Regions from separate parts of the Homo sapiens genome. Here regions 2 and 3 are each linked to region 1. The links come from fine-mapping of genetic effects on gene expression. Tissue or cell type: whole blood. Region 1 holds a variant in brackets; each other region holds the start of a gene. All regions are shown on one strand. Distances are between the middles of the regions.

Region 1 (2,756 bases):
AAGAAATAAATAGGAAGGGCAGGCCCACTGGGTCCAGGATAGTGCCCTACAAGGAGACCTTTCTTCAAAATGAAATCCATACCTGGGTTCAGGCCGCATTGCTTCTGCTCCCAGCACCCGAGAGCATCCTCAATCACCTCACAAGTGGGAATGACAACGCCTGCCTCCTTCACTGAGATAGAGGTACAAAAAAATTACATGTGTGAAAGAAATAGAATACTTTTACGGATCCTGACAAATGTGAGTTTACATAAATCCTATTAAAAGAACATTGTGCAAGAAGCTTTTCTGTGTCTTGTATATAAATTATCCTCAGAAAAGAAGTGCAGCTGATGGGACTCACTTATTAATTTCATTATTTAAAAAACAGACGTGCTGGGCGTGGTGGCTTATGTCGGTAATCCCAGCACTTTGGGAGGCCAAGGCGGGAGGATCACTTGAGGTCAGGAGTTTGAGACTAGCCTGGCCAATATGGTGAAACCCTGTCTCTACTAAAAATACAAAAATTAGCTGGGCATGGTGTTGTGTGCCTCTAGTCCCAGCTACTTGGGAGGTTGAAGCACGAGAATCACTTGAACCCAGGAGGCACATGCAGCAGTGAGTCAGGATGGCGCCACTTACTCCAGCCTGGGCGACAGAGCAAGATTCTGTCTCAATAAATAAATAAATAAATAAATAAATAAATAAATAAATAAATAAAATAAAAATTAGAAAACGCTATTGGAGCCAGCCATGGTGGCTCCCAGCACTTTGGGAGGCCGAGGTGGGCAGATTGCTTGAGCTCAGGAGTTCGAGACCAGCCTGGGCAACATGGTGAAACCCCGTCTCTACTAAAAATACAAAAATTAACCAGGCATGGTGGCAGGTGCCTGTAATCCCAGCTACTCAAGAGGCTGAGGCAGGAGAATTACTTGAACCTGGGAGGTGGAGGTTGCAGTGAGCAGAGACTGTGCCACTGTACACTAGCCTGGGTGATAGAGTGAGACTGTTAAAAAAAAAAAAAGCATGCAAAGAAAAATGTGCATTGGGGTTTTGAGTCAAGAGCCCTGCTATTTTTTCTTACTGCCCAGGAAGGCACTCCTTGTCAAGGGAATTCTATTTATAAACGTTATATTCTCATGATCTGCAGAAAACACAGGGCAG[AAAGAGG/A]AAGAGGTAAGAGGGTTCCAGGAAACCCTCTTTCTTGTCTCAGTTCTGTCCCTTGTTAGCTGTGTGACATTGGGTAAGTCAACCTTTGAGTTTCACTTTCCTAATCTGAAGGCCTCTAGCTTGCTCTCCCAGAAAGATCCACTTTTTTTTTTCTACCTTAGAGTATAAACTTCAGTCAGTGCCCAAGCCCCTCAGACCCCTTCCTCAACCTCCCAGCTACCTTGGGGAATGGGTCCAAATCTCCAGAGTTGGAGGAAAAGGTCTGTATTTGTTTTCTGTTTGTTTGTTTGAGACAGAGTCTCACTCCATCACCCAGGCTGTAGTGCAGTGGCGCAGTCTCGGCTCACTGCAACCTCCATCTCTTGGGTTCAAGCAATTCTCCTGCCTCACCCTCCCGAGTAGCTGGGATTACAGGCATGTGTCACCATGCCCAGCTAATTTTTGTATTTTTAGTAGAAACAGGGTTTCACCATGTTGGCCATGTTGGTCTCGAACTCCTGACCTAAAGTGATCTGCCCACCTCGGCCTCCCAAAGTGCTGGGATTACAGGAGCGAGACACCATGCCCAGCCAGGTCTGTATTTCTTGACAGTGTTTCTTGATCAGAGGCCCTGTTTTCTCAGGACAATTGCTGTCCCAGGTGCCCAGGGTCTCTCACCTTCGTGTTCCCATGGAGGTGCTCACAGCTCTGATGTGGGAACCCCCAAGGTTCTCCTCTGTGGTCTAGGGAGTATCTAGGAATGGACTGCAATGCTCAGCACTGTGAGATAACTCCTGCCCAATAGAGAGTAGAGATGCCCTCTAGGTCTGGTTCCTGCAAGCCTTTTCATAGTCCCGTCACTGATCCCGGCCAGGCTAAGGATGAAAGAGGGGCTTGTCTTACAGCACCATCTTCTGGGCAAACCTGTGAGAGCTACTTCTTCTTGCTGCCATCTGGAGAACACTGAGATTTTGGGGGACTTTGGGTCCCAGAAGTTTTGTTTGTTTGTTTGTTTGAGATGGAGTCTCGCTCTGTCACCCAGGGCTGGAGTGCAGTGGTGCGATCTTGGCTCACTGCAACTTCCATCTCCCGGGTTCAAGCGATTCTCCTGCCTCAGCCTCTGAGTAGCTGGGACCAGAGGCGCACGTCACTATGCCCAGCTAATTTTTGTATTTTTAGTAGAGACGGGGTTTCACCATGTTGGTCAGGCTTGTCTCAAACTTCTGACCTCGTGATCTGCCCACCTCGGCCTCCCAAAGTGCTGGGATTACAGGTGTGAGCCACCACGCCCGGCCGATTCCAGAAGTTTTTATCTTACCTGTTTCCCCAAGATAAATTAATTCTGGACTTTTCCAGCCATCTCTTAGGAGAGGATGTTCCAAGAGCCCTCCAACCTTCCAAACACAAGGCTGCTAGGAATGGTAAGCAGCTGAAACCAGTCTTCCAATCATTCCACCCAGAACCTGAGTCCTCACCTACTCACCCCATATATCCCCACCCCAGAACACCCTGTCACTCACTAAGAAGCTGTTGTCTGGAAGCAAGGTTATAGCCTCATCACTTCCAGAGTTTTCTTCTATCCTCAAGTTTATTTGTTTGTTTGTTTCAGATGAGGGCTCACTGGCAGC
Region 2 (2,500 bases), 77 kb before region 1:
GCTATGTACACATAAAGGATGACAGGTATCTAATGTAGGGCTTCATGAAGCTCAGCTGTAATGCAGACACCTGGCCAGGCCAGGAAGTTCCCCTTACCTGGCACAGTCCTGGGTGCCTGCCTAGATGGCTCTTGCAGTTCCCCTTCCTGATGCTGGTGGAAAGCAGGGCTACAGAGAGGTCTCGACCCAAGGCCGCCCCAGCCAGCTCAGAATTGGACTGGGCATGAGTGGGTTTCCCATTTTTCAGCCTTGCATCCACAGCCTGGAAAGGCTATGCACAGCCACCTGCTCAGTGTACTCTCAGTTGGCAATTGCTTGCATTGACCTAGGGGCTAGACTCCTACTACCTAGCATGGGCAAAATGTGGAAAAAGGGAAGCTTGACAAAGATTGGGGAGACCCTGGAGAAATGGGACATTGGCAGCCTTGCTATCTACCAGGACACTGGCTCCTATGAACTCCAGTGCACCATGGCAGGGGAAACCATGAGCAAAGGGAGTAAAATGCTCTGACCCTTGCTTAAATAAATGAGGCTGGAGGGAAGGGGTTTAAAACTAGAAGAGGTGGCGGGCGCGGTGGCTCACGCCTATAATCCCGGCACTTTGGGAGGCCAAGGCGGGTAGATCACTTGAGATCAGGAGTTTGAGACTAGCCTGGCCAACATGGTGAAACACCGTCTCTACTAAAAATACAAAACTTAGCCGGGCGTGGTGGCGGGCGCCTGTAATCCCAGCTACCCGGGAGGCTGAGGCAGAGAATTGCTTGAACCCGGGAGGTGGAGGTTGCAGTGAGCCGAGATCGCGCCACTGCACTCCAACCTGAGCGACAGAGCTAGTCTCCGTCTCAAACAAAACAAAACAAAACCAAAACTAGAAGAGGAAAACCACTCTGGTCTGGGATACCTTGGTCCCAAATTTCCTTCTTCCCCCTTCCCATTCAGCCATCTTCCTTCTCACCTCACCGTCTCTTCCTCACCCCACTGCACCTCCCCACTCGGGGCATGGTCCACAAGTCATTTCAACCTCTCCCACTCTCATGCCCTAATTTCTCCCCACAACCAGATTACCCTTTTCTCTATGTGTCCCCATCACCTTGCCTCAGAGTCTGGCCCCTAATTCCATTTTCCATTTTTCTTTTCCCATTCCACTAGTCTCCCTTCCCAGGGGGTACTTCCTGCCCTAAGCTCACCTACAGGCACCTACTATGGGCCAGCCACTTAATACTGACTACTCCCCTCAAGCCCCCGGGACACATCCTCCGCCCCGCCTGAGCTGCAAGAGATCCTCCTATACCTTTAACCAACCTCCACGTGCGTGTTAACCGCGGTGACAGCATTTCCTTGTCTCTCTGCTCCCGCCCCCAAAGGCGCTACCCATTGGCCGCTGGGTTCCTCTGTTCTCGCTCTAATTGGCCTCGTTACCGAAAAGCTCCAACCAATGACCTCTCCGTGTCTGTCTCCCTCCTCCGATCCTGGAAACTCATTGGCTCCGAGGACTTAGGACCTGTTAGCTTGGTTGGGCGACTGGCAAATCCTTCCTTCCCCGGGGTAGAAGTCCAGGGTGAGAAATTGGTTCCGAACTCAAAGGAACCCAGTGCCGGGCCACAGCCGGGTCACGTGGCCGGCGGCCCCCCATGACGTGCTGGCTGCGGGGCGTCACGGCGACGTTCGGGCGACCTGCCGAGTGGCCAGGCTACCTCAGTCACCTGTGTGGTCGCAGTGCTGCCATGGACCTGGGACCCATGCGCAAGAGTTACCGCGGGGACCGAGAGGTGCCGCCGCTAGGGCCAGGCCTCCTGCAGGGGCGGGGGAAAAGGGGTCCCCGGAGTCATCTACAGCGGGGAGGGGAGTAGTAGGAGCCCCTCGGGGCTTCTGGGGCCACCCGGTGGGGCAAGGAGGTTTGAGGATCACCCCCCGTGGGAAAAGGGGGCTTCAAAGACATCCCACCAGGGGAGGAGTTCCGGGGAAACGCAAATGAAGATGGGTTCAAAAGGCAGCCTTTCGTAATGGGTAAGAGCTCGAACTTTGGAGCCTGCCTGGGTTGGAATGTTTAATGTATCTGGGCCTCAGTTTCCTCATCTGGGAAGTGATAGTATCTGCCTCACGGGGATGTTATGGTCTAAGATGTTTGTAAAGTGCTTAGAACCCTGCTACTCGACAGGTAGCAAGGTCAAATAACTTGCTCAGTCCCACAGCTAGTGATGAATGAATCGGGGTTTCATGTGATGGATGTCAGGACTGTGCTGGGCCTCCCTCAAGGGCGGGGGAAGAGGGGTCCTCGGAGTCATCTACTGGGGGGAGGGGAGTAGGAGGAAACAGCCCCTCAGGGCTTCTGGGGCCACCCCCTGGGGCAAGGAGATTTGGGGGTCACCCAAACCTCCTTGTGCCAGGTGGGCATGGTCATGGGCCCCTCTTTAGGTGGGTACAGTGACAAACAGCTTACAAACTGTTTGACAAAAAAGTAAGTGGAATATGGGGGAAGGGGACTAGCTCGGGGAGGAGG
Region 3 (2,500 bases), 47 kb before region 1:
TCAAAGCTAGACCCCCTCCTCCCCAACACCTGCTCAGCATCCTGCATCCCTGTCTCAGGTGGTGGTTCCCACCTAATCACCTAGGTGTCATCCTTAGTGTCTCTCTCCTCCACCCAAACAGCCAATCAATTGCCAAGTCCTATACATTTTCCTCCTAAATATTCCTCAGATCCAGCCCTTCCCCTTCCTCCTCATATCTTGTGTCCCAGCTCAGGCTATAATCCCTCGATAACAACCTCCTTCCAGCCTCCTTGTCCCCAGTCTTATCTCCCATGCATCCATCATCCCAGCAGCCTATCTGTACAGGTTCCTCCCTGCCTCAAACCCCTTCTGTGATTCCTCTGTCTGAAGGGATGAAGTCCAAGTTCCTTAATAAGTCTCCCTTTGATATGGCCTTTCCACCCTTACAGCCTCTCCTCTAGCCACTCGCTGCCTCAAACCATCTACGGTATAGAGGTTGGCCTGCCCGCGGAGCCGACTTCATCTTGAAATTCTTCATCATTTTGTAACAAGCAGCTGTGCATTTCCATTTTGCACTGGACCTCACAAATTACGTTGCCCGTCCTGCCTGCCTGTTGTTGCTTGCACCCCTCTTGCAGTTTGTGGCCACCTAAGCTTTGTCTGTGTAGTCTCCTCCACCTAAAACTCCTCTTCCCACATCACCCAGCTATCTTCAGCTCTTCGTTTAGACTCAATGTAGGTGTTCTCTTTGGGACGTCTCACCGACTCTCTTCCTTCCCCTTCCCTGCCCTAATCGCCCAACACGTTGCAGGTGCTCAACCATGTCTATTAGAGAAACTGAATGAGGAGGCAAAGCATGACAAGTGCCACAAGAGACCTGCACACTGCTCTGGATGGTAAAGCGACGCAAGGAGGGAAGAAGGTATTTGCAACGGCCTCCCAGATCGGCGCTAGGACCCCGCCAGCAGACGTCTCAATCTGCGTGGAGAAGACCCAGTGCCCGCCAGGGGAAGCGGCTGCCAGGCTGGGCTCTCGAGCGCCGCCTGTCGCAATCCCACGGCCGCTGCAGCGCACCCCCTCCCGTCCCCTGCCCTGAGCCCGCCTCGCGTCTCCAATTGGCTGTCTCCATTCTCCCGCCCCTCCCGAGCTCAGCCATTCGGAGCCTGGGGTGGGCGGGGCTTGAGGCCTGAGTGGAGCGTAAACCCTGATTGGCTGTACGGAAGGCGGCGACGTGGCCGAAGGATGCCCGTTTGTGTCTAAACGGAGGCTCGGCCACAACGCCACTGGATTGGTGGTAGGGCGGGGCGGGCCACAGTCTCCAGCCTGAAGCGGAAGTGGAGGAAAGATGGAGGTGTGGGGACAGGAGCTGGGTGTGCTGGGGACTGGCCGCGGACCCCTAACCTGTGTCTCCGGTCTCCCTCCGGAAGCGGCTCAACCCAGCCCATCGCTCTGGCCCCGTTCTGGCCCTGCAGGGTGGTGGTTGGGACGTTGAAATGAGCGCGCGAGTGGTACGTCCTCTCTCCGCGCTCACGCCCCCCTCCTCACCGTGTTTCCCGCCAGGACCATCAGCACGTGCCCATCGACATCCAGACCAGCAAGCTGCTCGGTAGGAGGGGGCGCCACCGCGCAGCTGGCTGTCGGGGGGAGGCCTGTGCGTTGCCCCCTGTGTCCAATAGCCGGGAGCTCTGACCCCTGAAAGCCTGAGTCGAGATGCTGACCACTGGCCTCGTTCTATGCCCCATCTGTGGCCAGACCTGCTTCCCTGATAGCAGCGGGAACGAACCATATGTACAGTCTGTTTGACCTGCGTTTTCTCCTTTAATAACATATGTTATCGTATCATTCAGGGACAGGATAAATGACTCGCTTTAAAAACAGTCAACCACTGCCGGGCGCGGTGGCTCATGCCTGTAATCCCAGCACTTTGGGAGGCCGAGGTGGGCGAATCACCTGAGGTCAGGAGTTCGAGACCAGCCTGACCAACATGGAGAAACCTTGTCTCCATGTCTCCATGACTAAAAATACAAAAAAATAAAAATAAAAAGTAGCCGGGCATGGGAGCACATGCCTGTAATCCCAGCTACTCGGGAGGCTGAGGTGGGAGAATTGCTTGAACCCCGGAGGCAGAGGTTGCGGTGAGCAGAGATCTCACTATTGCACTCCAGCCTGGGCAACGAGAGCGAAACTCCATCTCAAAAAGAAGACAAAAAACAGTCAACCACTAAGTGGCACATCTGAATTGGAACTTAAGTCTGTCTGACCCACTGTCCATGCCTTTTGCATTATGCCAGGAAAAAAAAAAAAAACCTCATTTAAAAAGCTTCCACCTCCCCCTTGATTTTAGGAGGAAGAGGGACCTAAGACCCAGTTGCAAATGAAAACCTTTTAGTGTCCAGGCCATCTCCAGGTTGTCTGTATGGGGCTTACATACTTCCTCCCCAGTTCATAGTCAGGGAAGGCCTCTTCATCTGATCACACAGCTCCTGGCATTTTAAAATGCTTATTGGATTCATGGATTTGATGCCAATCTTGTCCTTAA

What was found. PIP is the estimated chance that this variant, and not a neighbour inherited with it, causes the effect.
Region 2: it holds the start of PNPO, and the variant in region 1 is fine-mapped to the expression of PNPO in whole blood (TOPMed, PIP above 0.99).
Region 3: CDK5RAP3 starts here. The variant in region 1 is fine-mapped to the expression of CDK5RAP3 in whole blood (TOPMed, PIP above 0.99).

The regions. Positions count from the first base shown.
Region 1 is chr17:48,016,492-48,019,247 of GRCh38, forward strand. No RefSeq gene overlaps it. Among named protein-coding and RNA genes, the nearest start is that of MIR10226, 15 kb to the right of the region's middle. RefSeq lists an enhancer at 1,213-1,312. The variant AAAGAGG/A (reference allele first, on the strand shown) is at 1,144.
Region 2 is chr17:47,940,045-47,942,544 of GRCh38, forward strand. PNPO (pyridoxamine 5'-phosphate oxidase) reads left to right here and starts at 1,527. Exons shown (of 7, transcript NM_018129.4): 1 at 1,527-1,769. The coding sequence starts at 1,632. It overlaps SP2-AS1 (SP2 antisense RNA 1), which reads right to left and starts at 1,360. Exons shown (of 3, transcript NR_103857.1): 1 at 1,303-1,360. RefSeq lists an enhancer at 1,279-1,573.
Region 3 is chr17:47,969,841-47,972,340 of GRCh38, forward strand. CDK5RAP3 (CDK5 regulatory subunit associated protein 3) reads left to right here and starts at 1,273. Exons shown (of 14, transcript NM_176096.3): 1 at 1,273-1,312; 2 at 1,522-1,567. The coding sequence starts at 1,307. RefSeq lists a silencer at 924-1,213 and an enhancer at 1,635-2,262.